Linked DNA regions of Homo sapiens. The main gene of each other region encodes a partner of the protein of the gene in region 2 in a complex. Each region holds a gene or a part of one and is shown on either strand. Other genes may lie near its edges. A codon is read from its position in the direction of its gene.

Region 1 (10,559 bases), on a different chromosome or scaffold from region 2:
ACTCCAAGTCCAGCAATTTAAGAGAACTGAACTGGGCGAGTCACCTCTGGGAGAAGGACGTGGGATCCCACCCCAGTTCTTAAATAACTCAGGAAAGGAGTCAGACACCACAGAGGTTTAAAAATACCTGTGCTCAAGTTCAGAGCAGCAGAGCACTTCAGGATCAATTCCCAAAGATCCCAGAAATTGGAACTGGGTGGGGTACCTAGTTTACTTTTTTCAGATGACAGGACAGAAGGAAAGTGCAGAATTAAGAAAGGGAATGCAGCAGGGTAAGGACCTCTAAATTTTAAAAAGGCTAATTTTAGGAGGTTCTAAGAAATACAAGTTGTCAGCTGAGGAAATCCTGGCCACCCTTGAGTATCTTCTTCAGGAGAGCAAGGTGAGTCTACCTCACACTGTGTGAGTGCTTAGGTCTGAAGTCACTCAGTCGCATGCCTCTCTTGCCCACAGCCATTACGAAGTGACGGAGCTTCCTTCTCTGAAGTTACATCCTTCTCCCACTTGGTCTTCCCCTCCCCTCCTCCCCCAGCGGTTTTATTCAGTGGATGGATTGTGAATATTGCAGCCAGCTGACTCCCTGTGTGTCCAGTAGGCCTTCTGCAATAAGGATGCAGAGGAGGGAGTAGCCAGGAGGTGAAAATAGCATTGAAAATCAGTGGAGAAGCCCTTGTCTCCTCAGCAACCAGTACCCCAAAGGGCACTGACCAGGGCCACAGCAAGGAACTCTGTTTTGGGGAAGGAGTTGCACACTGGCTTTAAAATAAGACAAAGGAAAGGGGGAAATGTTGTGATTAAAACTCTGTTCTCTTGGCTAGAGGATGAATCATGTAACTCTTGTCTGAGTGCAGCCAATGGTTGCCCAACTGAGTCAGCCCTGCCTGGCCCTCCGTTCTTGGGTGGGGCTTGCCTGGGCAGGGCTGTCTGCAGCACTGCTAGCTGCCAAAACTGAAGTTCTTCAGGGACTTCAATCTGGCATTTCCACCCTCACGTAGCCACTCTGCAAGCTCTATTCCTGGACAGATGTGGGCTTCCTGCATCCTGGTTAGACACATTTTGACAGGAGGGCCTTGGGGCTGGGGCTGAGGGGCTGCAGTGTCCTCTCTATCCCCAATAACGTACTCTTGCACCTGAAACATTCAATTTCATTTAATTGTTTACTTGTCTGCCTGAGATTTAAGCTTCTCTTGATTAAGAACTACAAATTATTCTGCTTTTATTCATGGAGCACTATATAACTGTTATGTGCATAAATGAACCACACAATCCCTTGGGCAGTAGCTGAGGTGCAGGTGTGATTACCCAGGACTAGGCTGAAAGCCTTGTAGCTCAGAGCTCAGGAGGACGATGTGAGAGCTGGGAAGGGCCAGGAAAGGGGCCCCAAAAGTGTTCAACTATGAACGGAACAGTAGATAGAGTACACAGGAGTGCACATTCCATACGCAAAAGGAAAAATATGTGTCCTGCTAAACAGGTCTAGTCAGAATGACATGACTGTGCTCCTTCTCTTCTAACACTTGCTATTTTCTCGTGTTTCATTCATCCCATCTTCTACTTTTTGCTTTTCTAGTGCTGCTATCTCACTGCTGAGCTCCACAGGATAATAACAGCCTTGCTGTCCACTCACCTTTTATTGAAGTATTCTAATCTGATGCCTATACATGCCCTCTACATGTTTGTCTGAGCAACAGGTCTTAAGAAGGGAGGCGGAGACATCTTTCTCTGCATAGTTTTCTCTATGGAAAACAATTCTGGACTCCACAAATTTAGTTACCTTAGGAGGAATTCAATTTTCCATTTTTGGTTCTCCCTCCCTGAGCACCTACTTTGAATGTCCCAGACATGGTGTTAGGCATGAGGGTGTTCACACACACATACACACATGCACACACACACAAAGCTCTCCATGGTGCTTGCCTTTGAGGAGTTCACCAGCTAATGGAATACTATTAAAGCATTTGGCCTGAATTCTAGTTATTTGTGTTTCTGTTTCTTTCCTCACTAGGTTGCAGGTTTTTTGAGCAGGGTCCCAATAGCCAGTGCCCCAGCCCTCATAGAGCCTGCTCGATGAATTGTTAAGAAATTGATAATGATGTATTTTGGTTGTCCTGCGAGTAGCAGACAAGCAGGAGTCCTCCTCAGAAAAGTGTCTGCTCCTGAAAAATCTCAAATGTTTGCTTTGGACCTATGCCCAGATCCCGGCTGCAGTTTCAAAGAGGACACTTCTGCAGAGTGAGTCGGACTTGCTTTGCTCCTCTGTGTCTTGTCCATACCCTAGTTTTCTTACAGCCCACCCAGAAAATAAACGGCAGGGTGTCAGTAAAAACAAACATCTGTTATTTAAAATATGTTTGAGGTTTCCTTCCTTTTGCTTTAGAAATTTTGGAGTTTTTAAAATTGAACCCAGAAGGCATTCTTAAATTTGATCTCTGAAGGGAATTCAGAAAAAATGAGTTGAAGCAATGGATCTGGATCCAGGCTGTCTCTCTCACCTCTCACCAACTAAAACTTGCCCACTAAAGAACTGGGCAGCAAAGGAACGTTTCAGATGCAATTCAATAGGAAGAAAGAACTTGGAAGAAACCTCCTTCAATCTAACCAACTACATCAATTTTTCCTTAAAGAATGCTTAGGCATCAGCCTAATCAGCCAACATAGCTACTGTCAAAACTGCTTTTAGTTAAATCCTTTGGTAGGATGGGTGGTATTTATTTAGTAAAGGGATAGAAAGTGCTGAAAATTGTTTAAAAGAAGTACATTCTTTCTTTTTGCTTTTGATGTGGATTCCTAAATTTGTTGAGTCCCCAGAAAAATGAGAAACTTAAGATGTTAAAATTTTAGTCCAGCTTTCTCAGCACTTTGAGTGCTAATTTATACATTATAATCCTGAAAGAATTCCATTGTTTCTCTCAACTTTACGCTTTAAAAGACTGGACTGTGTCCAAGGGTATACCAAGTGGGTTGTGCTCTACAAAAGTCACATTTTTTGAACTGTCAGTAGAAAGCAGGGAGGCACACAGTCTCAGCTCCACCCTGACCTCACTGGAGTGGCTGCTTAGGAGGCTGGCCAGCACACGGGAGGAAAGGGGCCTATATGATGTGTCGGAGAAAAGCTAGGAAGAGCATCACCCAGAAAGCAGGGTAAGACCCAAAAATTGCTTCATGCCCAGTAGACCAAAAAAATTGTAAGAACCTAGATAAGAAACTCCAAATGGTGGATCAAGGGCCACAGTGAAGAAACTATCCTCTGGCTGTGAAGGAACAAATACACCATTTGGAAGGGATGATTAAAGAGAAACTGGATAGGAATCTGTGGGGGCAGGGCCGATGAAGAAACTTCCAATAAGTTATATGAACTCATTCCCACTCCAACCCCTGGCATTATCTTTTGCAATTTGCTGAAACATGTTGGAGGCAAAGATCACCGACTGGGTGTTTCCATGAGCCTGGCCTCACCTAAAACGCACAACATAAAACTCCATTCCTGGAGACTGAAACTCAAGCTTCTGGGGAAAAATATCCGCAACAACTGCAAACCTCTTAGCGGGAAAAGCTACCTCCCAAGTAAGGCTGAGGCAGGCTGCCAGGCGCATACTGGCCGATAACGAAAAGCGGTCTCGCCAAGGCCCTGCAGATCTAATTACTGCCCTCACCGGCAGTTCAGTCGAGAAACCTCTCCTGCAGACTGGCAGCCAGACCAGGTGTGACTCACTTCCTCTTGGAAAATGCCCTCTGAGATGGCACAGTTCTCCTTTTCCTTCAGGGAGTGTTCTGTCCAAACCATCCACCGAGAGTATCTGCAACCGGCCACACCCACATGGTCTCACAGCTGAGTCACAGGCCTCAGACCACTGGGAGAATCCTGGAGCCCTTTGTGCTAACCACGCCCTGCAGAAGCTCCCGCAGAGACGGAACTGGGTGGGGGCAGAAAACGGGGTGGGCTTAATGCATCCCAGAATCTGGCTTAGGGCTCCCCTGTGCTGGCCTGGCTTGGAGCGCTCTGCATTCCACCCCAGCCAACAAGGCAGAGCTCCTGGTTTCACTTAGGCAGAGCTGGACTGAGGCTGGACAGGCAGCAGTGTCCACGGCTAGGGGCAGCGCCATTCCTTCGGCCAAAGCACAGGTGGTGAACCAAGTACCAAAGGCACGTCTGTCTGTTTCACTGCACCGGGCCAAATTAATCTATGATTGGAAGATCCTTCATCAAGCCTGCTCTTCCTCCATCTCTTTCTGGTTCCACTTATTAAGACAGCAAGGGAACCCTTTCAGTAGAGAAACCACGTCACACAGGGCCCTCTCCCACAAACCCCAGCCAAACTGCTGTAGAAAGAAAACAAGTGGACCTCCCTCCCTCAGCAGGAAGACCCTTTCCGTCGAGCAGACAACAGGAAGCCCCGACCAGAAACGCCTGTTTGGCCGACGGACTAAGGGTTACGGAAGGGACGCCCCAGCTGCCTACTCGTCCTACCCGCGCCTACTTGGGCGGTACAGCCGGGAGCAGGCTACGAACATGCAGACCCGGCCTGCGAGCGGAACCCACCAAGAAACACGCCAGCCAGGGCAGGGGCGTGTAGGAGGGATTCGGTAACCCGAGAGACGAGTGGGAAAGTAGGAAAGGTGGGAGTAAAGCAACGCAAACATAAAGGGAGGAGGGAAGAGGTTCAGGCGCACCAATACCACGGTCCCCTCCTAAAGAACAAGTGCCCCCTCCTCTGGTCCGCGTGGGTCTGGGGGCGGCCGCGCCCGGGCCGGGGAGGGGCGCTGCTGGCCTCGTTTGGGTGTGGCCCGGAGCACTGAGCAGCGGATTCCCCACCAGCCGCTCCCCGCCCAGCCCCGCGGTGCTCCGGACGCCCCGCGAAGCCGGGTGCAGGGTTTTCCCCGGGCAGCAGGTCCGGGCCTGGGGACTACCCAGGAGGGGCGCGTGGGCCGGGCGGAGCTCACCTTGGCCGAGGCGCGGCGGACGCTGGGCGAGCTGGGCGAGCTGGACGCGGGGCGGAGAGGCGAGCGCGGCGGGCTGTGCGCCTTCCTTAGTACGTGCGGCGGGTGGGTAGAGGGAGGCGGCGCGGGAGCGGGAGGAGCCTGGCGGGCGCTCGGCAGGGCGCTCCCCCAGCCCTGTCTCCTCCCCCTCTTCCTGCCCCCGACTCCCCCGACCCCGGGCGCGCGGCCCACGCCCTGCCCTCGCTCCCGGACCCGCCTCGCAGAGGCCTCGCCCGCCCCAGACAGAGCGTTCTTGTAAACTTCTCTTCAGTAGAAACGGTCCTGCTCTCGAATATTTCAGGGCATCCCCACCCTGAGCCTGCCCTTCCTCTCGGGTTTGGTTTTAGAAAGTGTACAAATCAAAGAACCCGGCCGTCCTGCGGGTGGGGCACGCTGGCGCAGAACCAGAGGTAACCGGCTCTGCGGCCACCTACGGGTCTAGGAATTACTTGCTGGATGACCCTGCAGGGAGTGGCACGTGGAGTCCTATCGACCTCAGAGGCACTATCAGATTAGCCCTAGGAGGTCCGTCTGGGGGTCTCGGCGGCCTGCGCCAGTGGAGGGGCGGCACCTCCCCAGAAGCCGGGCTTCCCGCCCCACCGGCCCGCGAGGTGCCGCAGGGAGGGTGCGGTTTGGCTTGTCAGCACCCAGGGGCGTCACAAACCCTTTGTTGAACAGGGGATTTACCCCTTTGTGTGGCGTCACTTGATCAATAGTTCAGTTTCAGTGTGGCTAATAGTGTTAAAAACTGGCCGGGCGCGGTGGCTCACGCCTGTAATCCCAACACTTTGGGAGGCCGAGGCGGGCGGATCACCTCAGGTCAGGAGTTCAACACCAGCTTAGCCAACATGGTGAAACCTTGTCTCTACTGATACAAAAATTAGCCGGGAGTGGTGATGCGCGCCTGTAATCCCAGGAGACTGAGGCATGAGAATCGCTTGAACCTGGGAGACAGAGGTTGCAGTGAGCCGAGATCGCACCACTGCACTCCAGCCTGGGTGACAGAGTGAGACTCTGTCTCAAAAAAAAAAAAAAAAAAGAAAAAAGAAAAAAAGAAAAGAAAAAGGTTAAAAACTAAGTTTCCAAGGCAGTATGCTGTGGTCCTTGAAAAGTCCTTTAGAAGAATTTTCTGGAATAAATTTAGAGAAAACCTAAGTGTTTCCTAGGGGATGCTTACCAACTCCTCGCCCCTCCCCCGCCCGCCCTCTTTTATTTTAATTGTGACTCAGGGTTAAATACAAACTACTAGCAGCTGTTGGTGGAAAAGAGCCCAATCCCAAACTCTGGGGTTTTCCTTTGTTCCCAAGGGAGGCCTTGGGAGGAATGAATGATCCTAAAGGAATGAGCAGACCTGGGGAATCCTCCAAGTGCCACCTCTGACTAATATTGGCTGTTGCCAGGAAAACCCAACTTGGATTTCAGCTATTACTTTCCGTGCAACCCTGGTGCTGACTATTCAAGGGGACAGCTCTTCAAGATCTTCCTGTATACAGTACTTCCCAGTCCCCAGGTCACAGTCACCAGTGGAGGAAATCTCGGATCCCTTTTGTTGCAGGGATTGCAATGCGACTGGGTTTAGAATGGGAATGCCTGGGTTTGCGTACCCCTACTCATCTGATTTCTTCATCTGGTCCACAGACCTTAGGAGTGCTTTAGTGTATGTGGTAGGCCTGGGAATTCAGGGATTAGAGAATCAGTCTCTTTCTCTGAAGAGTTCCAAGTATTGGGCGTTAGATAAGCAAACAATTAAAATCCAGTGTGCTTAGTGAATGGTAGAGGATACTATTGGATACTAGGAGAACACTGAGGAGGGGCTTCCAAGTCCTCTTGGAGTGGTCACAGAATAATTTCTGCAGGAAGCAACATTGGGTAGAAATTTAAAAACAACAATAACACTTATTGTAACTTTTTAATCTGTACAAAGATTCCATTCTTAGAAGGCTTGGAAAATATATCAATGTATAAAAAATGATTTATAAATACATGAGCCAAAGATAAACATTTTCATATTTCTAGTCTTTTTATGCATATGTAACAAATATTTGCATAATTGTGATCATACTGATTATAAAATTAAGTACAGTCATTCACTGCATAACAGTGTTTGAGCCAACGATGGATCATGTATTCAGCAGTGGTTCCATAAGATTATAATAGAGCTAAAAAAATTCCAGTTGCCTAGTGACCTTGTAGCTGTCTAGCGCAATACTTTACTCATGTGTTTGTGGTGATGCTGGTGTAAACAAACTACTGTGCTGCCAGTTGTATAAAAATATAGCACATACCAATTATGTGTAGTATGCAATACTTGATAATGGTAATAAATGACTGTTACTGCATTATGTATTTACTACACTATACTTTTCATCATTATTTTAGAGTGTATTCCTTCTACTTATTAAAAAAACAGTAAAACTTAAAAAAAAGTTTAAAAAACAGCCTCAGGCAGGTCTTTCAGGGGGTATTCCAGAAGAAGTCATTGTTATCACAGGAGATGTGTGTTTTTGCCCTGGAGACCTTTCAGTGGGACCAGATGTGGAAGTGAAAGACAGTTATATTGATGATCCTGACCCTGTGCAGGTCTAGGCTAATACGTGTGTTTGTGTCTTAGTTTTTTTTTTTTTTTTTGTGTGTGTGTGTCTTAGTTTTTAACAAAAAACTTAAAAAAAAATAAAAATTTTAAAAATAGAAAAAACTTACATAAGAAGGATATAAAGAAAGAAAATATTTTCTACAGTTGTATAATGTGTGCTTTAAGCTAAGTGTTATTACAAAAGAGTCAAACATTTAAAGAATTTACAAGTTAGGCTGGGCGTGGTAGCTCACACCTGTAATCCCAGCACTTTGGGAGGCCGAGGCGGGCGGATCACGAGGTCAACAGGTCAAGACCATCCTGGCCAACGTGGTGAAACCCCATCTTACAGAGAAAGAACTAGCCGGGCGTGGTGGCACGCACCTGTACTCCCAGCTGCTTGGGAGGCTGAGGCAGGAGAATCGCTTGAACCCGGGAGGCGGAGGTTGCAGTGAGCCGAGATTGTGGCAGTGCACTCCAGCCTGGAGACAGAGTGAGACTCCATTTCAAAAAAAAAAAAAAAAAGAAAAAGGAAAGAAAAAGGAATTTCCAAGTTTATAACGTAAATTTACAGTAATCTAAGGTTAATTTGTTATTATTATTTTGGTTTTTTGAGACAGGGGCTCCCTCTGTCGCCCAGGCTAGAGCATAGCAGTGTGATCTCTGTTCACTGCAACCTCCGCCTCCCGGGTTCAAGTGCTTCTTGTCCCTCAGCCACTCGAGTACCTGGGATTACAGGCATGTCCCACAGCGCCTGGCTAATTTTTGTTTTTTTTAGTAGAGATGAGGTTTCACCATGTTGACCGGGCTGGTCTCGAACTCTTGGCCTCATGTGATTCACCCATCTTGGCCTCCCAAAGTGTTGGGATTATAGGCATTAGCCACTGCATCTGGCTAGGTTAATTTATCATTGATAAAAGAAAAACTGTTTTAAACATAGTGTAGCCTTAAGTGTACAGTGTTTCTAAAGTCTACAGTAATGTACAGTAATGTCCTAGGCCCTCACATTCACTCACTACTCACTGACTCACCCAGAGCAACTTCCAGTCCTGCAAGTTCCATTCATGGTAAGTGTCCTATTTGTATAGCATTTTAAATCTTTTATACCATATTTTTACTACACTTTTTCCATGTTTAGGTACACAAATACTTACCATTGTAGTACAATTGCCTACAGTATGCTATTCAGGGTTGTAGCCTCAGAGTCCTCGACTGTACCATACAGCCTAGCTGTGTAGTAGACTATGCCATCTAGGTTTGTACAAGTACATTCTATGATGATTGCAGGATGAAATCGTGTAAGGGCACATTTCTCAGAACGTATCCTCATCATTAAGCGACACATGACTGTTTCTATTTTTGTCCCATACTTTTTCCTTTTGTTCTTACTCTTTCCTATGTTACTAAATATTTATCAAGATCATATGTTTATTCATTTAAATCATTCTTTTCACCTTTTTATTTGACAAGTAACTGTTCAACTGTACTGTACTGTGTCTTCTTTTTTCTCTCTTCTCCAATCTGCCAGCAGAACTCTAAGGCCCTAGTGGGTGCATCTCCAGGAGGATGCTGCAGGGTTTCTAAAACATTGTGCTGAGTACTGGGAATACAGTGATGAAAATGGTCAGCACACCTTGCTCTTCCTGGCCTCATGTGGTTTCTTAATGACTCTGTGTACTAGCAGGTCCATAAAGCTTCAAGTATCAGCCATGCTTATAGTCTCTCTAGGAAAAGGGGTCCCAGGCAGTTCTTTCTCCAGGAAGTAGTTATACCTTGTCAACTACATGCATTCAGTGAAGCCAGCTCTGCTTCCCTAGAGAAAACTGATGGCATCAGGGACCAGTGCCTAAGCCTGAGCTGCCCAGCAAGGATAGTGTCTTAGCAGGAGGGTAGCCAACTGAATGGCCACTGGAGGAATGAGAGCAGAGGCCCCATCCATGTGGTCTCTGAAATGATGAGAAAGCAATGTTCAAATCTTCTACCAGGGCTGAAGTAGGTTCCAATGTACAAAATGTTGGGAGCTGGAGAGATTGATCCACTAGTGAGGCAGTATTGGGAATTTTACCACTTCTCCATGTGGCACAGCCACAAAATCCTATTACCCTCAACTTTTTTGGGTTTGTGGCTGTGGCACAGAAGGTGGGCTATCTACCAGAAATGTGTGTTCCTCTTTTCATTGTGTAGAGTTTTGGCCGCTCAGCTAGGGATTATATTTCTACCACCTCATACCCCTAGGTAGGACTATGTGACTAGCCACCAACACAATGGGACTGGAAGTGATATGTGTCACTTGCAGGCCAAGGCAGTAAAGAGGTGACTTTCCCATATTCTTTCTCTCCACCTGACAGGACTCCAAGGCTCTAAGGATGGAAGAGTCATAATTGGAAAGAGCCTGGGTACCTGAATCACTGTATGGAGGAAAATCACTTGCTGAGCAGGAACATCCTCATTGGACTAGCTATGTGGGTGAGAAAGAACCTTGGAATTTGAATGTTTATTTGCTACAGCATAACCTTAACAAAGTGCTGGTATTGAGTGCTAGTATTTTTGGCTGCACATTTGAAAGGATTAATTTGCATGTGTAGTAATTACACTATTATACTGATGACACCTCAGCATAGTGTCATTGTTTGAGCAGAACTACTTACTGCCCTGGTCACTCTTTTAGATACTTATGAAGCAAAGTTCACACAGGTCTTAGCAAATGCATAGTGTCATTGTTTCTTGATGTGTATCAAGCTGTGCCCTGTACCACATGGAAACCTGTGAAAACCCAGCTCAACATTCTGTCTGCCCAGACACCATGTCAACAGCATGAATCATAGTTGTATAAACTTTACCTACCAATTGCAATACCTTGGGAAGGAGTCTTAGCACTTCTTCCTGCCTCCTCAGTTGAGAATCACTGATTTACAGTGATCTGGTCAAGACTTTTTGCTGGCAATCCAAAAAGGAAGACAAACCAACCAACCCAGGTATGGCTGTATTAGTAGCCCCTAAATAGGGAAAT
Region 2 (10,435 bases):
AGGGTGAGGCTGGAGAATCACTTGAACCTGGGAGGCGGAGGCTACAGTGAGGAGAGATCGTGCGACTACACTCCAGGCTGGGTGACAGAGCCAGGCTCCATCTCAAAAGAAAAAAAAAAGAAAAAAAAAAACAGCTTCAGGGTGTACCCTAGAAGGGAGATTTGGAAGTCATCTGGTAGAACCACCCAGAAGGACAAATATGGGCATCTCCTGACCCCTACTGCTGACCTGTCCCTGGAGAAAGTAGATGAGGACTGCCTCTGGCAACAGCAGAAGAAAAAAGATACCAGGCAGTGAATGGGTGGAAAGAATTTTTTTGAAGGACTGGAATTTCCTCTGGTGTGGCCTACAACTAGAATAGGGTGTGGCACCAGGGCAAGTGAAGAGGATTCTCATGTGAAAAAAAAGAGGAACATTCCATTTCTATTTAATTCTCACAATTGAATCTGGAAGGCAGCTTAAGACACCATAATTTTAAGCAAAACTTCCCCGAGGTAGGTAAAATGTGAAGTTTAGGTCTGTGGAACAGCTGGATTAAAGGGGAAATGAACTCCCACCAAGTTTAGAAACTAGTATTAATTTGGGAAAATATAAAGTTTAAAATCCAACAATTCACTTATTTTGTCTCTTTTCCTTCTCTCTCCGCCAGATTTAAGGTCTAAAGAGCAGGGATTTTATTTTTGGCGGGGGTCTGTTTTGTTCACTGCTGTATCCCTAGTGCTCATAACTATGAGTGGAACACAGTAGGTAATTAATATTTTGTGGAATAAATGGTTGTTTAAAGCAGCCCACTAGAGCCTGAGACTCCTTTTGTGACAATCCCGCTCTCCTTTAATGAAAAATGTCTCCGCAGGCTCCAGGCTCTGCACAAGCGAAGGGTGAGAACAAAGGCTCCAGACAATGCATTAGTGCCAGATTCTAGGCCCAGTGGTGTAGGAAGAGCCTACAGCCCTCAAAATCAATAGCAATTATAGAAGCACATCTACTTTGCCAGGAAAACTACTTAAATCAGAAATTAGCCAGGAAACTAACGGCCATGACTGCGAGCCTAATGTCAATCAATACCATAGTTTAATAGCTCAAAGACACAAGATGCTAAATATTGAGACTCCAGTGCAAGACTGAGCTCCTAATCAAAGTCAGTGAGTCAGCAATATTTCCTGGGCATTTACCACAGGCAGTCTAGTTGGCACTGCGGGAAATTACAAAATCTAAACGGTCTCCAAATCACAAACCTCCAATTGTAAAAATGCACATACATGTCACATCCTTCCACTGCAGATGCAAGGGACATTTTTGGACAAACCCTTGACCTTTAGATAATCGACAGACTTGGAAGAAGGGAAGAAATTACTAAGCAGGACTGTGTTAACACTCCTGGCCCTTGCCCATCAAGGGCACCTCTGCTGCCCCAGTCTTACCAAAAATCTTCCTTAATATTGCCTGAATATTGCTGCTTTACATTCTATAAATTATAGATCTGTTTAGGTGAACGAGGGTTTTTTATTATTATTATGTATTTATTTTTTGAGACTGGGTCTTGCTATGTTGCTCACATTGGCCTTGGACTCAAGAGATCCACTAGCTTGAGCAGCTGGGACTACAGGCCCACGACCACGCCCAGTATCGTTGTTTTTTAAATAACAAGACTCCTCTCGGTTGCTGAGGCTCTTAGGACCACCAACCATTCCTAACTTAATGAATATCGATTCAATCTGCTAGTCTCTAGCTGGATGCAGGTCCGCCGAAATGGGAAGGAGGAAGGAATGCAGCGTAACTGGACCGGCCTGGATGGCTGTTGTAATGCGTCACGGAAGAGCCAGAAGAGCGTCTCTAAGGAGGTGGAAGGTGGAAAAAAGAAAGTGGAACAGGGGCAAAGACATAATTTTCCAATTAAAATAATTTACTCAGTGTCAACCTTAAAGCTAAAAAAAGTTCCAGAAAAATATTTCAGTGATTTAGTCTTCCTACACACACATTGCCCCTCACTACCCTCCACCTCCCCACCACCAATCCCATAATCAGGCAGTGCATGTTAAAAAGGTCTTTCAGGGCTAGCCTGGGAACGTCAGCACCTTCTGCAACACTGTTTCAGTGGGAAAGTGCATTCTGCATTCCAAGTCACCAAGTTCCAGACAGGCACAGTAGCACACACGTGTGAACAGAATCCATCAGTACAGTCTGGGGCCCAGGCCTTTGCACACCAACAACTTAAGGTTCTTGGTAATGGCCCAGCGTGCACCCATGAGGCCACTGCTCTTTTACACACGCACTCAGAACACCCACAGCTTTAAAACGGCAATCTTACTACAAAAATGACACTTTGCATTTGCACAGCACTTTGTTTTTTGTGTACTTTACACATTTATTACCTAATGACTGTGTTTTTTGAAATCTCCAATAACTCTGGGTGGTGGTAAGAATAGGCATCCTTAAGCCACCTTCCCAGATGAGGAAACTTATCTGTGTTCCCCTCCTTCTTCTCAACAGCCGGCTGATGGAACCCAAGCCCTCCACACCAGCAGTGGGGCCAGCTGCACAGAGCGGCCAGAAGGGAGAGGCCCCGGGGCCACGCCCTTCTCTCTACTCTCAGTTCCTGACTCATTGTCACATCATGGCGAGTAACAGGACAACCCTCCCCACAGAATCATGGGGGACACTACCTTCCTGAGGCCAATGTGTTCAACCAAGCGGGAAACTCTCCGGGTAGAGTGAAATCCGAAGTTGCTATGCTACAAGATAACCTAGAGCAAGGGGAATAACTGACGTTTTAATGTCTTCTTTTATGGGGGGCTGAGGGGTGCCTACTCACACTCCCCCCTCTCGTCTTCCCCCGCTACTTCCCTCCTGCTGGTCGGTTCAACTCCACAAGCGCGCGTTTGTTTCGAGTACAGTAACTTAGAGCAGATGGGGGGCACTTTCTAGAGGGCAGTGGAAAGCCCACTTGCTACTGCTGCGCCGGGGACCTGCGGCTCCCTGGGCGGCCACGCCCTGCCTCGGCGGCGCCTGGCGCGTCTGGAATGCGGGGCCTCCCTCCGCCCCTCTCCCCACGCCGCCTCGCCCCGCTCCCGCTAGGGCTTCTTAGAGAAGCCCGACCCCCCACCACCTCTGCCCTGCACCCTCCCGGCCCGAGGGCCGGTGGCCCCTCACCCCTGCCCCAAACACCTTGTCCCTGAGCCCCCTCCCCAAAGACTCTCCAGTGCCGGCCGTCCCTTCAGCCCCCTGCCCCCGACGGCCTCCGGGGCCAGTTGCCGGGGCCTCCCTGCCAGGCCGTACCCTTCTTCCCAGCGTCTCCACACCCCGCTAGCTGGCGGCCCATCGCGGGCGGGCAGGGCGCGCCCCGCTTACCTGGGCCGTGCGCCGAGAGCTGAGAGCGTCCCCAAATGCTGAGCAGAGCCGGCTGGCCTGGGTGGGGCTTTTATACCCGCCACATCCTCCCTAGGCGAGGCGAGGCCCGCCCCGCCCCGCCCCGCCTCCCCCTTACACGGCCCGCTCCCACCCCAAGTCAGGGGTGACTCACCCCGGCCCGCCGGCCCGCAGGGACCGCGCCCTGGAACGCTCCCGAGCCGCGCCACGCGGGAGCGGCCCCAGCGCCCCTGGCCCTGCCCTCCGAGAAAGCCCGGCCGAGGCTGCCCCGAGGCCCACAGGGACCCCGTTTCTTCCTCCTTTCCTCATTTTACTTCTTAAGTGCCACGTCGAGCTCTCAGCCTCGGCTTGGGTTAATAAATTAACAAGACTTTAGTAGTAGACTCTGGGCTTGATTAAGTGTTTTTTTTTTTTTTTTTTTTTTTTTGGCGTTAATGCAATGGAGGAAAGAATTGTTCCAAGAAACATAAATCTGGACTCCCCTGAGCTGGGGCTGTTGGCATCCAGCGCCCCATTACCGTCTGCAAACATGTCAGCTTAACCTCTGGCCGCCAGTTCCCGGGGGGCGCCCGGGGAGGGAGGGAGATTCGCCCTGTGCTGCAAAGCCTGGCCCGCCCCGGCCTCCGAGGGCCAGGAAGCCCCGAGCCTGGGCTGGGAGGCCAAAGCCGGGAGCCAGGATCCCACCTCAGTCCCGCCCAGGGTGGCGCCCCTGTCCCTAGCACGGCTGTGCTCCGCTTCTCTCCGCGCCTGGGGCATCTCTGCGCGGCCTCGTAGCAGGCAGTCCTGAGCGGGGTGGGGCCCATAGCTTTGAACCCGGAGTTTCGTGTGTGTGTGTGTGTGTGTGTGTGTGTGTGTGTGTGTGTGTGTGTGTGTGTTTCGAACCCGGAGTTTCAACAAAGAACTTTCCTCTCCTTCTTTCATGACTGCTGGGGTGTGTGTGTGCGTGTGTGGTGTGTGTGTGTGTGTGTGTGTGTTTCTTGCAGCCGTTTAGCCAACTCCCTTGCTCGGTGTTGCTGTTACTCGCTTTTCTTCCGAGAGAGAGAGAGAGAGAGAGAGAGAGAGAGTTTCTTGCAGCACAGAGAGAGAGAGAGAGAGTGAGATAGAGAGTTTCTTGCAGCCAGTTAGCCAACTCCCTTGCTCGGTTTTGCTGTTTCTCACTTTTCTTCCGTGTGTGTGTGTGTGTGTGTGTGTTTCTTGCAGCCGTTTAGCCAACTCTCTTGCTCGGTTTTGCTGTTTCTCGCTTTTCTTCCGTGTGTGTGTGTGTGTGTGTGTGTGTGTGTGTGTTTCTTGCAGCCGTTTAGCCAACTCCCTTGCTCGGTTTTGCTGCTTCTCGCTTTTCTTCCAAGAGTCACGTTGGCAACGTGCAGGCAGACACCTATTTGTTGTATGTGAGACGACGCAAATACTGTATTCGAACCTCAAACTAACAGGAAAGCGACGCTGAGAATCCCGAGGATCTCTGGCTGCGTTTTTTAAACCCCTCCTTGCACACTACTTCCTGCAGCTCTTTTTCCTGGTTTTGATGATTCTGTGTTTCAATCTCCCATTTATCTTAACATCCATTTTTACTTTCCATTTGAGCGTCAATTCACTCCTGGGAATCAGAGAATGATAGCAAGGCCAACAGACATTCAGTGCTCTGCCCACTCGCATAGAGTGACACAGGCAAAGTCGGCCACAGCTGAGGTCTTTTAACCCGCCCAAAGCTTTCTGTTACCCAGCGCTTTCACGAGGAATTATACGCGATGGGCCCTACCACAGAGCCAAATAGAAAATCAAGCAACACTTTGGGTACAATTGCTGATTTACATTTATAGCTCTTCAATTTAGCCTGAAAGCTTCAAAGTCAGAAACAATGTTTATCTGCTTACTTTGTGTGAACATTTTGGAAGGTTAGGGGAACACAGGCAGACAGTAATATTGGGCACGATTCAGCCTCCCTTCTGTGTATCTCAAGATAGGTTCCACAGTCTCTTACTCCTAATCGTGCTGTGATAGGCCCTTTACAGAAGATAAAATTTAATTCAAATCATGTGGAATATATAAAAGCCATCAAATGTCCAAAAGAGTTTTGTGCTCATCTTGGGCATGCCACAAATTCTAACTTCTATAGATTTGTACAATCACCAGTCTTTGCATCATGCTAAAGAAATGTGCACTGATGTTATCATAAAAATGAAGCTATTAGAAGTCATAGTTTGCTATTTCTGAGGAATGTGAGGCCAGTTCTTCCAGTATAAAAGATCTTTTATTAGTCAGAAGACTCTATTTTCCCCCCTGGTTGAGGAGAATGTTTACATCAGCCCTCAGATTGTCTGCTGTTGTCCATATTGCTCTCTAAGTGCTTGACTTTGTTTTGTTCACACTTCATCTGCTGCACTCAACACCTACTAGCGCCTAGCTAGCAATGATAGGCACTCACTAAATGTGATAGAATGATAAAATACAATTATTCACTGAATAATAGAATGTTAAAGCAGGGAGGGACCCTAGAGATTAAATTGCCCTATCCTTGATTTTTACTATTATTATTCTTATATCTTTTAGTTGAGATCTCACACTGTCACCCAGGCTGGAACGCATGGCATGATTAGGGCTCACCGCAGCCTTGACTGCGGAGGCTCAAGAAATCCTCTCCTCTCAGCCTCTTGAGTAGCTGGGACCACAGGCCCACGCCACCAAGCCTGGCTAATTTTTCTATTATTTGTAGAGACGACAAAGTCTTGCTATGCTGCTCAGGCTGGTCCCGAACTTCTGGGCTCAAGTGATCTGCCTACCTTAGCCTCCCAAAGTTCTAGGATTACAGGCGTGAATTACTATACCCGGCTCTTGATTTTTACATATGAAGAAATTGGAGTCCAAATAAAATCTCCTGCCCAGTCCAGGGATTAAATAATGCACCCAAGGCCCTCGTATCAGTTACCTTTGCAGTATAACAAATTATCCCCATAAACTTAGTGGTTAAACATAACCATTTACTTGCTTGTAATTCTGCAATTTAAGCAGGACACCCAGTGGGGACAGCTTGGTGCTCCTCCACAGCATGTTGGGTTGGGTAGCTTAGTTGGGGTTGGAAGATTGAAAGCAGCTTCATTCGTCTGGCGCCTGAGCTGGGATTGCTAGAATGACAAAGAGCAGGCTGGGCCTTTCTCTTCCTTGGTCTTACATCCTCCAGGTTCTCCTCTTTTGCTACACCACGGTAGTCATGGCAGCCAGCCTTCTAGAAGCAAAAGCTGAAGCTGCCAGGCCTCTTGGCTCACAGGCTGTGCAAAAACAAGCAATAGGCTGGATTTGCCCTATGGGCTGTAGTTTGCTGATCCTTGTTTTAATCCATTGCCCTACTCAAGTTTTTGGTTTTGCCCTCTGATATCTAGGCTCCTCCCTTTAAGATGTATTTCCTTTTCTTAAGAATGGCCCAGGCCAGGCATGGTGGCTCACGCCTGTAATCCCAGCACTTTGGGAGGCTGAGGAGGGCAGGTCATGAGGTCAGGAGATCAAGACCAGCCTGACCAACATGGTGAAACCTCATTTCTACTAAAAATACAAAAAATTAAGCTGGGCGTGGTGGCGGGCGCCTGTAGTCCCAGCTACTCGGGAGGCTGAGCAGCAGGAGAATGGCTTGAACCCAGGAGGGGGAGGTTGCAGTGAGCTGAGATCGCACCACTGCACTCCAGCATGGGTGACAGAGCGAGACTCCGTCTCAAGAAAAAAAAAAAAAAAAAGAATGGCCCATATTTGTAGCTGAGCAGTTCTCTCAGTCTGCTTCATTCATGCCAGGAGAAACTGAAAGGTCTAGAAACTTCTTTTCATTTTGCACTTTTTCTGGTTTAAGCTGGCAGTTGTTTCATTAATACAAGTATCTTAAAAACCATGTAGATTTTCCATATCTTATTAAGGTTCACACCATGCTCCAAGATTTATATACAATTTTCTCAAAAACTTTATTTATATAAATCTTGCTGAGGTTTAATTCCATGTTCCAAGATTCACATTCATTTTTTTTTTTTTAAATAGATCTCTCTCTACTTTACATGTCAGGCTGCAGTGGGACAATGCACTTAAGATTCTTAGAAGCCCTGAGATCGTCTTCGAAGTACCACATTAAATCTTTCTTGGAGTCTTTAAAAAGAAGTTTTTGCCGGGCGTGGTGGCTCACACCTGTAATCCCAGCACTTCGGAAGGCCAAGGCGGGTGGATCACAAGGTCAAGAGATTCAGACCATCCTGGCCAACATGGTGAAACCCTGTCTCTACTAAAAATACAAAAATTAGCTGGGCTTGGTAGCGCGTGCCTGTAATCTCAGCTACTCAGAAGGCTGAGGGAGGAGAATCGCTTGAACCTGGGAGGCGGAGGTTGCAGTGAGCCAGGATTATGCCACTGCATTCCAGCCTGGCAACAGAGTGAGACTCCGTCTCAAAAAAAAAAAAAAAGATTAAAAAATGTATAAAGAATGTCTGGTATATTGTAGGTGATGAAAAAAGCCATAGTTATTTCATTGGCTTTTTTAGTCTTTGCAGCAGCTGGCCTTGCTGAACGCATAGTAAGACCTCAATAAATCCTTGTTGAATTCACGTGTCATGACCCAAACCACACAGAGTACTCTTGGTATGGACAAACCACAATGTCTATTTTGTTTGGAGGCATTTCCAGGGAAAAATCTGCAGTGACTTCAATGTCTCTTTCTCAGCTGTAACAGACATTTTTGACCTCAGTTCATTCTCTGAGACAGCCAGAATTCTCTTTCTGAGACATAATTCTGATTATATGACCCCTCTCCAGAAACTCTTCCCAGCAGGGCTCTGACCTACCTGGGCAGCCTCATTCCCCCACATCTTCACTCTTCACCGCTCCATGTGCCACTGCTGGACAGGCCAGGCTCATTCATGCTTTGTACCTTCCTCCATCCTGTTTTCCTGCTGGAATGCCCTTTCCTGCTTTCCTCAGTGGTGAACTTTGCCTCATCCATCAAGCCTCAGAGTAAATATTATTTTCTACTGCAGAGCAAAGGCTTTCCCAAGCCCTTCAGGCAGATTTGACTACTTCTCTTGGCATTTTAAAAATATACCTCTCCTCTTGCAATTGTCACCTCGCATTGTTATTTTTTAATTTGTTGGTCTCAGCAACTAGGCAGGAGCTTCTTGGGGACAGGCATTTGGATGTTTCCTCTTTGCATTGACATTATCTTACCCAGTACCTGTTACTATCAGATTTTTCTCCATAAACGCATTACCTTGCCTTTGTTCATACTTAAACTCACCTGGCAAAAATTAAAATGTATAGTATTCAGTGTGGTGAAAATGGGCAAAATGGGAATTCTCAGACATTATCGGTGGGAGGGCAATTTGTCAGTATCTATCAATACTTAAAATACTCATGCCCTTTGATGCAGTGATGTTGCTTCAAGAAAGCTATCTTGAAGAGAGAGCTCTACGTGACCATAACAATATATGTATAAGGACATTTATATCAGCATTTTAAGATTGAAACACCCTAGGTGGCCATCAATGAGGCTAAATTAAATTAATTTTAGAGTATGTGTTCAGTGGAATGAAGCTGCTGAAAGGAATGGAGTAGATCAACATGTTCTGACATGGACAGATTTCCAAAATATAGTGCTAAATGAAAGAACAAGCAGAATGTAAGTGCAAAACTGTGTCTTGCTGGATTGCTAAGTTACGATATGATGTATAAAACATTATGAAAACTGATTTGGCTACAGATGCCCACTCTGTCAAGATCATTCCTATATTAACCCACTGGAATATTGGGATGCTTCCTGAGGTGTAAGCATCTTATTCTTAACTCAGCACATTTTACTGCATTTATACATTGGCATGTCAGAGAATGAATATTTCAAACCCTATCAGCCTATTGTTTCTTCCAACAGCATTTTTCCATCTAATTTTGTAGAAAATACAAATATTTAGCTGCTAAGTGTCTGTTATCAATAGAAAAAAAACCCTAATTCTGCAATACAATACGTATTTCTTAGCCATAGAGCCTATTCAAAATAGGACAGTATTTTTCATGAAATAAAATATTTTGAGTGAACATGAAAACACACAAAAACATAGCTGCATTTTGAATGTTTTTATCTTCATTAAGTGTCTATTGAAAGTATTTTGGGTGTTTTGAATTTTTTTTAACTTTGAATTAGTCTTCAAAGTTAAAAAATGGAATTAGTCTTCAAAGTTAAAAAATTCAAAACACCCAAAATACATTCAGTAGACCCTTAATAAAGATAAAAGCATTCAAAATGCAGCTATGTTTTTGTGTGTTTTCATATTCACTCAAAATATTTTATTTCATGAAAAATACTGTCCTAACTGCTTGGGAGACTGAGGCAGGAGAATCGCTTGAACCCGGGAGGCGGAGGTTGCGGTGAGCCGAGATTGCGCCACTGCACTCCAGCCTGGGCAACAAGAGCGAAAAACTCCGTCTCAAAAAAAAAAAAAAGTCTCCTTTTTTTCCAGCCCCGGCCCCAGACGCTACAGCCGCCGAAATGTTGATGCCTAAGAAGAACCGGATTGCCATTTATGAACTCCTTTTTAAGGAGGGAGCCATGGTGGCCAAGAAGGATGTCTACACGCCTAAGCAGCCAGAGTTGGCAGACAAGAATGTGCCCAACCTTCATGTCATGAAGGCCATGCAGTCTCTCAAGTCCCGAGGCTACATGAAGGAACAGTTTGCCTGGAGACATTTCTACTGGTACCTTACCAATGAGGGTATCCACCATCTCCGTGATTACCTTCATCTGCCCCCGGAGATTGTGCCTGCCACCCTATGCCACAGCCGTCCAGAGACTGGCAGGCCTCGGCCTAAAGGTCTGGAGGGTGAGTGACCTGCAAGACTCACAAGAGGGGAAGCCAACAGGGATACCTACAGATGGAATGCTGTGCTCCCTGGTGCTGACAAGAAAGCCGATGCTGGGAGTGGGTCAGCAACCGAATTCCAGTTTAGAGGCAGATTTGGTCGTGGACATGGTCAGCCATCTCAGTAAAATTGGAGAGGATTATTTTGCATTGAATAAACTTACAGCCAAAAAAAAAAAAGTCAAACAGAATAATAT
Region 3 (10,329 bases), on a different chromosome or scaffold from region 2:
AGTGGAGGAAGATATTTTCTGCGAAGGATATGGTCAAGGTCATGAGCTAATATGGGCCCAGAGGTTTTTAAAGGGCTTTTAAATGAACGATTTCTTCTAGGCCTCACTGCTCTTCACAGGAAAGGCTCGTCGGAGACTCTTGGCATGGAGGACTGAGAATCAGGAATAGGGAAGGTGTCCAGCGAAGGGCTAAGGCCCAGCACTGGGGTAGAGGTTGTGGATTGGGGAGGGGGGTTCAGGTTCAGGCTGCAGTCAAGGAGGAAGTAGGGGCCAGGGAGAGTTTCCTGTATCCCAGGAGACACTCAGACATCGTTCTACCACAGTAGAACAACATACTTCTACCACCAGTCCAAGAACAGACCTGGGCTCAGGGTGTAGTACCTATCACTGCTGCAGTCCCACCCCAGCCTGGGGGGCCTCCCCACTGCTCCCCACTCCACCCCACCCCCAGCTGGCAAGATTGGAGAGGCAGCAGGGATTGGTTGCTATGCAGTAGGCATCTCTGAAGGAGAGCGTGACCTGGGTGGAGGCCCCAGGGAGGGCGCTCCCAGGGAGGGTGGATGGAGAGGGCAGCGGAAGGCAGCAGACTTTCTCCTGAACTGAAATTCCTCCCAAGTCTCTGTATTCAAACCCTGCGGGAACATCTGAGTCACCTGCCCCACTCCTCTGAAACCTGAGAGAAAAGCCCCATGTGATGAGAGGAAAGAGGACCCTCAAGAGGAGGTCAGTGGGACAAAGCCCTCCAGCCTCTGCACCTGACCTCCATGCACCTCTTCCTAAAAGATCCCTGAGTCACCCAGACATGGCCTTGAAGTCTAACCTCAACCCACCACTGCACCCTGGAGCCACTGGCCTTGAACCTACCTAAGGGGAAGCAATATCATGCCTTATATTTTCTGGGGGGAAAATAATCTCAATTTCATTTGTCAGATCATATATGTGGAATTTTGTCTCCAAAACTATGGTCACCTTCCCACCATTTGCCTCACTCCCACTCCAGCCACTGACCCCCACTCATCTCTTCTGAGGTCCCCTGTCCTTCTCTGAAGGAGCTTGATTCCTGACTGATAACAGATCTCATCCAGGGACCTTTATGGCAGAGACGGTGGATTCGAGAATGCCTATATTCTCATGCTGCTGCAAACAGCGGGTCTCCCTCCACATTGCCCTCCCTGATCCTACCACGCACAGGAAAGGATTAATCCATCCCTGTGGTTTGAAGCCAATGATCTGGAAGTGGGTGGCAGGACAGGGCCTGGACTGTCAACGTCAGCACTGAGTGCCAGCCCTCCTCCCCATCCCACTCTCGCCTAAATACTTCCTCCCTGCAACTCAGCCTTATTCTTTTCCCTCCGACTTACTCCCAGGACACCCAAACTCCATTCCAGACCCCAACCAGGAACAGATATGACCTTCAATTCCAGCCTCGGTTCAAGATCCTGCCAGAGGCAAGGTTGGAGAGAGGTGGGAGGGGTAAGTGGGCTGGCTGAGATCCCACAGCTGGGACCTTCCAAACCTTGGCAGGGGGGTGGTGAGGGGTCCCCTTCTCGGCTTTGACCACACCGAGTGAACTCTATTGCCTGTGCACACACACTGTTAGTCACCCTGCATCCCTCCCCTAACTTCACTGGTCTGCTGTCCATAAAACTTCAGCTCAACTCCCAGCTCTCCCCACCACCACCCCACAACATATCCCTCAGTCCCCAACCCACGCCCCCAGAGTCTCTCAAACCATCAGCCTCAAAACTTCCAAGAATCTTTATTGAACTTGCTCAGCATCAAGCACGTGTCTGAAGGAGCCAGGGTGGAAAAAAAAAAGTGCCCACTGGCGACAGGGAGGGCCCCAGCTGGCAGACCCCCCAACCACATCAGAGGAGTTTTCATTTCTTCCTGGGCTGCTTATCTGGGAAGCCTTCAAAGAATTCGTTACACATCATGGCGATGCAGGACAGGAAGACACAGTACTCTTGGAAGTCCACCTCGTTGTCCCTGTTGCTGTCCAAGTTGCTCATCAGCTTCTGGAAAGCAGCTTCATCTGTCCTTTTCTGGAGGGAGAAGAGGCTACAGATAGAAAACAGAAGCCCAGTGGGTGGAGCCAGGACCAGACCCAGTTTCTACTCCCAGACCAGAGTTCAGGGAGGCTCCTTTGGGAGGTCCAGTTTGGAACTCCAACCCTCAAGGCTAAGCTAGGGTGGAGAAGGTGCTCCTTGGATAAGGAAGTCTGAGTACCTGGTGCAATGGAAAAATGACGGGACCACTACATTTTCACCCAAGGTTGTTCTAATAATCCCATGAGGTAGTAATAGTCATGAAAACAATATATAAACTGTGTTATGTTTGATACAAATATACATTGTTATTGTTTGAAGGGAACGTCTGCAGGCCTGTGATCATCTCCACATCTGTGTCTTCACATCTACAAGCCAAATAGAAACTCAAACAGTGTCCACTGTTGGAGTGATGGCAAGAGTCAGACAGTCCCGGTCCGGATGGCAGTTGTGTACACTGACCACCTTGGGAAGTTACTTAGCACTCTGAGCTTAGTCTTCCCTTCAGTTAAGTTGTGCAAAGCACCTGGCAGTGTCTGACCCATTCATTCTCAGCCCTCTTTCAGCATGGGGCCAGGCAGTGAGTGGTGGTGTTCAATGTGTTTCCACCCCAGGCAGCCACCCCACTGATAGATGCCCTCTGTAGCTAATGCTCTAGAGCAAGACTGCTGCCCTCCTCTGTGGGAAATGCCCCACGTGGGGACTCACTCAGGCACTACCCACTCACCCCCAAGAAGCTGGGCAGCTCCCGGGTCAGCAGCTCCTTTAGTTCTGACTTGTTGAGCTTGAACTTGTCACCCTCTTTGCCCGAGTACTTGTGGAAGGTGGACACCATCACATCCAGGGCCTTCTCCAGAGGGCACGCCATGACAGCAGTCAGGATCTGGGAGCAGGAGGCACAGAGACCGTCTTATTAATCCCACCCCTCAGAGATGTGTTCAGAATGCCAGGCTCCACTCCCATCCCTCCAGGAGCACTTGGCGAGACTCTGCTCCCTCCCTGGGGGAGCCCAGAGCAGTGGGCCCCCGCACCTGGCTGGGAGGGTGTGCACAGTGGGGAACACATGCTCTGGGCAGTGAACATTTGCAAGATCCGCTGCGCAAGCTCTGGAGATTCGGGCAGCAAACTCCCAGGGCCTCCCAGGCCTTGCCTCAACAACAGCATTTTTTCCACCCCTCACTCAGTCTATCCACTCCCACAGCTCAGCCACAAAGGCCCCGCCCTTGCCATTCTTTTCCCTCCCAGAACTGGGTGTGGCTGCTGGAGGCCTGCCCAGGGGCCTGCAGTGGAAAAAACCAGCACAGCCGCTTAGCTCTCAGCATGGGGAGGGGCAAAGTGAGGTGGCAGAGGCAAGGGTTGGAAGAGAAGCTGCAGAGGCCATGCACCTTCTCGAGCTGGGCTGCTGCGTGCAGGGCAGAGGCTCATGGGGCACACCACCAGACAAAGGCCCACAGTTGCCTTCTGCCTTTCCTTTGCTTCCTGCTCCCGAGTGCGCAACCCAGCAAACATGAGCCAGTGCAGATACCCACAGGCACATACATACCAACACGTACTATAGCAACAGCGTGTGCAAGCCCACATCTCAGAAGCACCTGGAGAGCTCAAATTCAGTCACTTGCTCACTTTTCTGTTTGTTTTTTCCTCCGTCTTACGTGCATGTGTGTGTGTGCCATGCACACCCACGCACACAATCCACCCAGAGTTCCACATCAGAATCTCACATCTGGATCTCTTTAGCACATCTGGCCCCCACCAGCCTCCCCTTCTCCTTCCCCAGCCCTGGCCTCTGACACCCCTTGCATGCCAGTCAGGCCAACACAACTCACCAAACCAAGAAAGAAGAAGCGCTGAGGAGAGAGGGTTGTAGAGAGGGGAAGAATGGGGACGGCCCAGAGGTCTGACCTATTTATACCCCAGCCAGGCCCTGCCCATAGCAGGGGACAGGGGAGAGCGGATACTGCCTTCCTGCTGTGGGCTGATGCGGTAAGTGCCACAGCACCCTCCACCAGCCCAGCCGTGGAACCAAGCCTCCTGTTCCCAGGTGGGCACCCGTGGGTAACGGGTAAGCCCTAGCGGTTACTAGCAGGGGACTGGATGAGATGGGCACCACCCAGTGTACATAGCTCAGCCTGAGTTTTAGAGAGGTGGAGGAAGGGGCAGCCTGTGCCTGGAGCATGGGGGACAGGGAGTAGTCCCATGGGGACCTAGGAAAGGAGATGCAGGGGGTGGTGGGTGACAGGTGGGAGATTGCCCTGGAAATGTGGTGACACAAAAGCTAGGGGGGAGATGGGAGGATCGCCTGAGGCCAGGAGTTCAAGACCAGCCTAGGCAACATAGAGAGACTTCTGTCTCTATAAAAAGGAAAAACAATTTTTTTTTTTAATTAGCTGGGCAGCATGGCTGTAGCCTGTAGTCCCAGCTAGTCAGGAAGCTGAGACAGGAGGATCATTTGAGCCCAGGAGTTCGAGACTGCAGTTGGCTATGCTCAAGCCACTGCTCTCCAGCCTGAGCAACACAGAGGACCTTGTCTCTTAAAAAAATAAAGATTCAGAAACAAAAACTGGGGTGGGGATCCCCATGCCCGGTACTGTCTGCCATGCCAAGTAAGGCTCAGGGTCGGGGCGGGGGGATCTGGAGGGGAACAGGCTCACACCCAAAGGAGGCTCTGGGACCACCTCAGGAACGTCAGTGGGAAAGGTCCTGGGTGAGGTAGTGATGGAGTGGAGTGGCAGTGAGGCGTGGGGGCTCACGGATAGATCTCAGGTTCGGAGAGGGTATCAGGAGGGGCCATTTAAAGTTGGGATGAGTGTCAGGAATGAAGAATCCAGGTTGGGGTGGAGAGTTAGAGGTGAAATGGCATGAAATAGGGGAGTTATAATTCGGGTCAACCTCTCAGGGTGGGCTACAAACCCAGTGAGGGTTAGAAGTAGGGGGTTAAGGCCCTCAGGGGGCTGCGGCTTCAGGGATAGGGGCTAGCTCAAGTTATTCCCTTACCCCTCCATACAGAGCACCCCTTCCTGGCTGGGAGAAACACCTCAGACACCCTAATCCCATTAGTGCTGCTCTCTGGGCTCCCACAGCCCGAGGCAGGGAACAAACACCCCCACTGCACCCACGGCCCCACCCTCCTCCAACCATGAGCACTGAGTCCCAGGGGAAACTCAGGCAGTCCTCTCTCAAAGATCCCAAAGAAAGAGAGAGAGGAAGGGAGGACAGGGGTCCTTGTTTTGTCCCCACGCCCTCCTGCTGGACCCTGGAGGCCACTGCATTTCTGCAGGGTCTGCAACTTCCCTCAGGGAGCACCCTGCCCCTGCCCTCAGCTGCCTTCCCGCAGTGGAAAAGGCCAGAGAGGAGCAAAGAGCTCAGGAGACGCGTCCTCAGAGAAGAACCAAACAAAACCAAGCTGATGCCAGTTTTTTATTAGGAGTTAAATAGGCCCTTTCCCATCGTGGTCTCATTGGTGCACGCTCTGCTGAGCCTCGAGGGCCTCAGAGCAGATCCCGCCTCCTCCCATCCACAAGGGAGGCCACAGGGGTGCGGCAGGCAGGCTGGGCCCCAGAGTGGCTCTACCCCTCATTCGCTGGGCATCCTGAGGAAGGAGCCCTCACATCTCTGGGCCTCCTAGGTAAAATGGGTTAACTGATCGCAGAAGACCTGGGCAAGTCCAGATTGAAAGGGGTACAGGAGAGAGGGTAGGAGGGGGTGTGGGAGACATGCCCAGCCCCCGACAGCCAGCGCACCCCCTGGAGCAGAGGCTACTGGGAGCAGGGGGGCTCTGAGGGGCAGTCCTTGAAGTACTCGTGGCAGTAGAGACAGAGGCAGGCAAGTGAGCGCACATACTCCACAAAGTCCACCTCGCAGTCCTTGTTGGTGTCCAGAACACTCATGAATTTGTTGTAGTCACATTCCCGAAACTCAGTCTGTGCAAGGGAAGGGTTGGGAGAGGTAAGGGAGTAGGATGAGGAGGGCAGAACAGCCTCACACGCCACCTCCCTCCTTCCTCTCCCAAGTGGACCCACCCCACCCCAAACTACACCCTTCTGAGGGCCGACTTCAACCTCCCTGCTCTGATAATGCACTCGTTGCAATCCCCTCCCAAATCTGTCCTCTCAGATTATTAATCGAGCACCTACTATTTGCTACTGAGTGCCTACCAAGTGTTAGGCATTCTTCATGGTGCTCTCACTCAGTCCTCTCAACAGCTCTGCAAGGCAGCAGGGATGATTGTCATCCCATTTTACAGATGAGGAAGCTGAGGTTTCTGCTGTGTCAGTTCTCCCCCTCCCACTCCCTCCTCACAATCCAGCCCCCTCCCTTGCTGTCCTGTGCTCATGCTTGTTGTCCCCAGGTCTCTCTTTGCAGAGTCTAGGCAGTGCCTCCCCCCGGAGGAGGAGGGGACGGACACTCTGACTGCTCACCGGGGTCCAGGTGGCCAGCTCCTTCTGCAGCAGCTCCTTGAGCTCCGCCTGGCAGAGCTTGTATTTGTCCCCACAGCGCCCTGCGTATTCCTGGAAGGTGCACACGATGGCAGCTACCGCCTGCTCCAGAGGCCTGGCCATCCTCACTGTCACAGAACAAGGGTGTGGCTCACAGCAGAGTTCCAGGCCAGCCCCCCAGCTCACCTCTGCCCTCTGTGTTTCTCAGAGACTGTTCCCAGACCCATCTTAACCTCCATCAGGCTTCAGGCCCCGCAGTCTCCCCCTCCTCTGAGTAGCCCTCCCAGACCACACCAGCCCCTCCTAATTTATCCCCCTGCTGTCCTGTTGTTATTTCCCCATGTAGAGGTCTCATTGCCCCAACATCGCTGTAAACTCCTCAGAGAGACAGCATCCTACCCCACCACCCACACACCCCACCGTGGGGCTCCTTAAGCACTCTCAGATTATCTGCCACCTCTTCTTATCCCCAACACCCAGGGATGGCTCGGTCCCAGTCTGCCCCAGCCCATGAGATGCCCTAGAAGCCTCCCTCCCTGCAGGAACTTGCACAAGGAGAGCCTGGCCCTGTGCTTCTCTGCCCTCAGCCCTTGGAGAAGCTAGGCCTTAGCAGGGAGGGGCAGGTCTGAGAGGCGCCCCCACAGCCTCACCACCACTGCCCTCACCCTGCCTCCTGCCCTGAACTCGAGGAAGCTGCACCCAGAAGAAAAACTTGTGGGATCCTCTCTGCCTGTCGCCAGCTGTGCAACCTTGGTGAGCCATTTGTCTCTCTGGGTCTCAGGGGCGGGGCCTGATCTGTAAGTTGGGGTTCATCTCACCTCGCTGGCCCAGTCAGGAACCTGAACCAGATGGTCTCTTGAGAGTTGACCAGTTCGGGTGTTTACCAATCTGAGACTGGCCTCCCCTGAGGTTACCCTCCCGACCCCTGGGGGTTTTGAGCAGGGAGGTTCTGTATAGGGATACTCTGTTCTATTGGAGGGGAAGCCCTTCCTGGAATTGCTCACCTCCCCCCACTTCCACTGTCCCCTTCCACCGCCCTTCTGGGATGATGCCTCCAGCCTGGGAAAACCCGAAGGCAGCCAGGAAGGCAAGAGTTTTTTCCATGCTAGCCCAGTGACTCACTCCTGATTCCCCCACGGGACAAGAGTCCTGCAGCACAGGGCGGCCAGGGCCAAGACTCTCCCTGAAGATTTGCCCACTGCTGGGCCCCCTGCTGGGAGCAAATGGCTGGCATGGTTGTGGCTGGCAGGAAAGTAGGGGAAGGGGAGTGGGGAGTGCCAAGCACTGCCAGGATTTAATTCATTGTAAACACCCCAGGATTAGAGCAAGGTGTCCAGGTTCCCAGGAGAGGAAAGGGCCATGATCCTCAGAAATGAGGAGACTCAGAGGTGAAGCAAGGAGGCAAGGAGCAGGTGAGGGGCCTGATCAAGGGGAAGACCAGAGCCTTGAGCCCAGTGCTCCCACCCCAAGGCAGACCTTAGCTCTACACACCTCCCTGCCCAAACTTCCCCAACAGCCCCTCACTGTGTAAGGAAACCTCTGCGTCCACTATATCTGACTTCCCTCCCCGTGTCAGGCCCGCCTGTGGTCATCTCTCTGCTTCCAATGCCAGACCCTGGGTCAGGAGTCAGGCTGGCTACTGGGGGTCCCCAAACTGCCCTGACACTCAACCCAGGGCAGGACCCAAGCAGCTGGCACTCACCACTGGTGCTGGCGTTTCAGCTGTAGGAGCTTAGAGACAGGGCGTCACTATTTGTAGCCTCCCAAGAAAGGAAGGAAGCAATTATGGGGGACACAAGTAGGTCAACACTGAGGATGCCCTCAGGGATCCCTCAGCAGACCCATTACAGGCCCCACCTGCCCACCTATCCACGCACACATCAAAGGCCAGTCTGGGCTCAGACACCACTCCCCTTTCATTCCCCATCTGCCCTCCCCCAGAGTTGGGAACAGGGGACAGTCTCCTGCCAAGTCCTTCCAGCTCAGTTGGAGGAGACAGTCTGGCTTATCCATCACATCACAGCCCCATCTCTTCACTCTGCAGAGGCCCCCAGAATACCAAGTGGGGACACACTTCTGCCTCGCTCAGGTTGCACCCCTACAAATCTCTATTCCGGGTAGAACTTGGAGAGCACGTGGCTAAGCCTCCCCTTTACAGACGAGAAGTCTGAACTTGCCTGACCAGATCCCAGCTTTTGGCTGTGAACTGCTTGCTTCCCAGGGGGGAAATCATCAGGTGGGATGTCTTTGAGGCACAGGAAGGAGGTGTGTTCCTCCCAGGGGCACTTCCAGAGTCTAAGCTTGAGATTTCTGGCCCTTCCACCCCAGGTGATGGGAATGAATTTGGGCTAGAGTCACATGAAGGCTGGCCAGTGGCTGGAGCTCCTTAAGGGCTGTTTTCCTTCTTCCCCTGCTCTGCTCAGCACCAAAACAACTTTCCTTGAAGTCTTGTGGGTGGCAGGATGGGATTTCCTCTGGCTTTTAGCTTGAGTGTGTAGCCTTTTGGGGTCTCAGCATCATGGGAGGGTCATCCATTTGTGTCCCCTCTTGGGGTGAGAACTGGGCTTCCACTTCTGTCTTCCTCACTCCCCAAACCATCAGGATCAAAGCTCAGGTTCGGCTTGGCTTGGCCAATGACCTCAGGGCACGGGGGGCCCCAGTACAGATTCTGCTTTGACTTAGATTTTGGCCTACTCATTTCTTACTGCCTTGTGGTCTCTTCAATGCTTTGAAAAGATTTAATTCTATGCAGCATTTGTTGTTGTTTTTAAGCTGAAGTGGGCACAGACCACCATATTACCAGAAACAGACATACTTTCATGTAACTTCTCTATTCTCTCCCTCACACCAGAGCCTGAGAAACTCCTCCCTGTTTTATAGGAAGAGAACCCAAAACCTAGAAGAGCGTGAGAGGGAAAAGAGGAAGGAGATTGACTCCCAGGCCGGCAAAGAAGCCTTCCTGCCCGTGCAGGCAGCCAGAGCGCCAGTGACACCTTCGACCTCGCCCTCGGCCCCCAGCACCCAAGCCTTGCCTGTGCCGTCCTCTCCTTGGAGACTCAGCCCTGTTGAGGAGGGGAGTGAGCAATAGAGGAGGGAAGGAAAAGAGGAGCTGTGATTAGCCCTGTTTTATAATGGGCTACATAGCCCTGTTTTATATGGGCTTTTTAATGGAAGTATGGGGAGCAGGGGGCAGAGAACAAGAGACAGTCACGCAGCAGAAGGGGGGGCCAGAGTGCACCAGCAATTAATTCAGCTCTAGGTCGAGCTTAATTATTCCCACCTATGATATCCCAGCTCTGCCCCCAGCCACCTCCCTTAAGCAGCCTACCTCTGCTCTCGGGGCTTCATTTTACTCACCTGTCAGTGATGGAGGGTGATAATAGTAACTACCTCATAGGTTTGTGCGGGGTTTAAATAAGCTAATACATATAAAGTTCATAGAGTAAATAGTGCCCAGCACATGGCAAGGGCTTGATAAATGTTAATCAAGAGATGGGTGAGGCCGGGCGCAGTGGCTCACGCCTATAATACCAGCAATTTGGGAGGCCAAGGCGAGCAGATCACCTGAGGTCAGGAGTTCGAGACCAGCCTGGCAACATGGTGAAACCCCATCTCTACTAAAAATACAAAAATTAGCTGGGCATATTGGCACGTACCTGTAATCCCAGCTACTCGGGAGGCTGAGGCAGGAGAATCGCTTGAACCCAGGAGACGAAGGTTGCAGTGAGCTGAGATCGTGCCACTGCACTCCAGCCTGGGCAACAGAGCAAGACACTGTCTCAAAAAAAAAAAAAGAGAGAGAGAGATGGGTAACTTGCCCAGGGTCACGTAATAGTGAGTGGCAG

Evidence for each region.
Region 1: the proteins of ANXA2 (region 2) and S100A10 are in contact, whole or in part, in a crystal structure (PDB 4FTG), measured with the Homo sapiens proteins. Residues at the interface, in NP_001002857.1 of Homo sapiens: Val4, Glu6, Ile7, Leu8, Lys10, Leu11, Ser12, Leu13; in NP_002957.1 of Homo sapiens: Phe39, Gly41, Phe42, Asn45, Gln46, Ala51, Lys54, Ile55, Leu79, Ala82, Cys83, Tyr86, Phe87, Met91.
Region 3: the proteins of ANXA2 (region 2) and S100A4 are in contact, whole or in part, in a crystal structure (PDB 5LPU), measured with the Homo sapiens proteins. Residues at the interface, in NP_001002857.1 of Homo sapiens: Leu13, Glu14, Pro21, Ser22, Ala23, Tyr24, Ser26, Val27, Lys28, Tyr30, Thr31, Asn32, Phe33, Glu36, Arg37, Leu40, Thr44, Gln69, Asp70, Phe73, Arg77, Arg78; in NP_002952.1 of Homo sapiens: Lys35 (codon at 2,814), Leu38 (codon at 2,805), Pro43 (codon at 2,790), Ser44 (codon at 2,787), Phe45 (codon at 2,784), Leu46 (codon at 2,781), Gly47 (codon at 2,778), Lys48 (codon at 2,045), Arg49 (codon at 2,042), Thr50 (codon at 2,039), Asp51 (codon at 2,036), Ala54 (codon at 2,027), Phe55 (codon at 2,024), Lys57 (codon at 2,018), Leu58 (codon at 2,015), Asn61 (codon at 2,006), Leu62 (codon at 2,003), Gln73 (codon at 1,970), Phe78 (codon at 1,955), Cys81 (codon at 1,946), Ile82 (codon at 1,943), Met84 (codon at 1,937), Met85 (codon at 1,934), Glu88 (codon at 1,925), Phe89 (codon at 1,922), Phe93 (codon at 1,910).

Annotation. Positions count from the first base shown.
Region 1 is NC_000001.11:151,988,811-151,999,369, forward strand, and holds the start of S100A10 (protein S100-A10), read right to left. Parts: upstream 5,050-10,559; 5' UTR 4,942-5,049; intron 1-4,941. UniProt on the Homo sapiens protein: Because S100A10 induces the dimerization of ANXA2/p36, it may function as a regulator of protein phosphorylation in that the ANXA2 monomer is the preferred target (in vitro) of tyrosine-specific kinase.
Region 2 is NC_000015.10:60,394,595-60,405,029, forward strand, and holds the start of ANXA2 (annexin A2), read right to left. Parts: upstream 3,393-10,435; 5' UTR 3,349-3,392; exon of another isoform or gene 3,320-3,348; coding exon of another isoform or gene 3,277-3,319; intron 2,745-3,276; exon of another isoform or gene 2,664-2,744; intron 1,834-2,663; exon of another isoform or gene 1-1,833. UniProt on the Homo sapiens protein: Calcium-regulated membrane-binding protein whose affinity for calcium is greatly enhanced by anionic phospholipids. It binds two calcium ions with high affinity. May be involved in heat-stress response.
Region 3 is NC_000001.11:153,541,879-153,552,207, forward strand, and holds S100A4 (protein S100-A4), read right to left. Parts: upstream 3,929-10,329; 5' UTR 3,875-3,928; exon of another isoform or gene 3,864-3,874; intron 3,641-3,863; exon of another isoform or gene 3,592-3,640; intron 2,932-3,591; 5' UTR 2,917-2,931; coding exon 2,776-2,916; intron 2,046-2,775; coding exon 1,881-2,045; 3' UTR 1,743-1,880; downstream 1-1,742. Other genes in the region: S100A5 (protein S100-A5), read right to left, coding at 1,362-1,383; S100A3 (protein S100-A3), read right to left, coding at 5,804-5,968, 6,467-6,607. UniProt on the Homo sapiens protein: Calcium-binding protein that plays a role in various cellular processes including motility, angiogenesis, cell differentiation, apoptosis, and autophagy.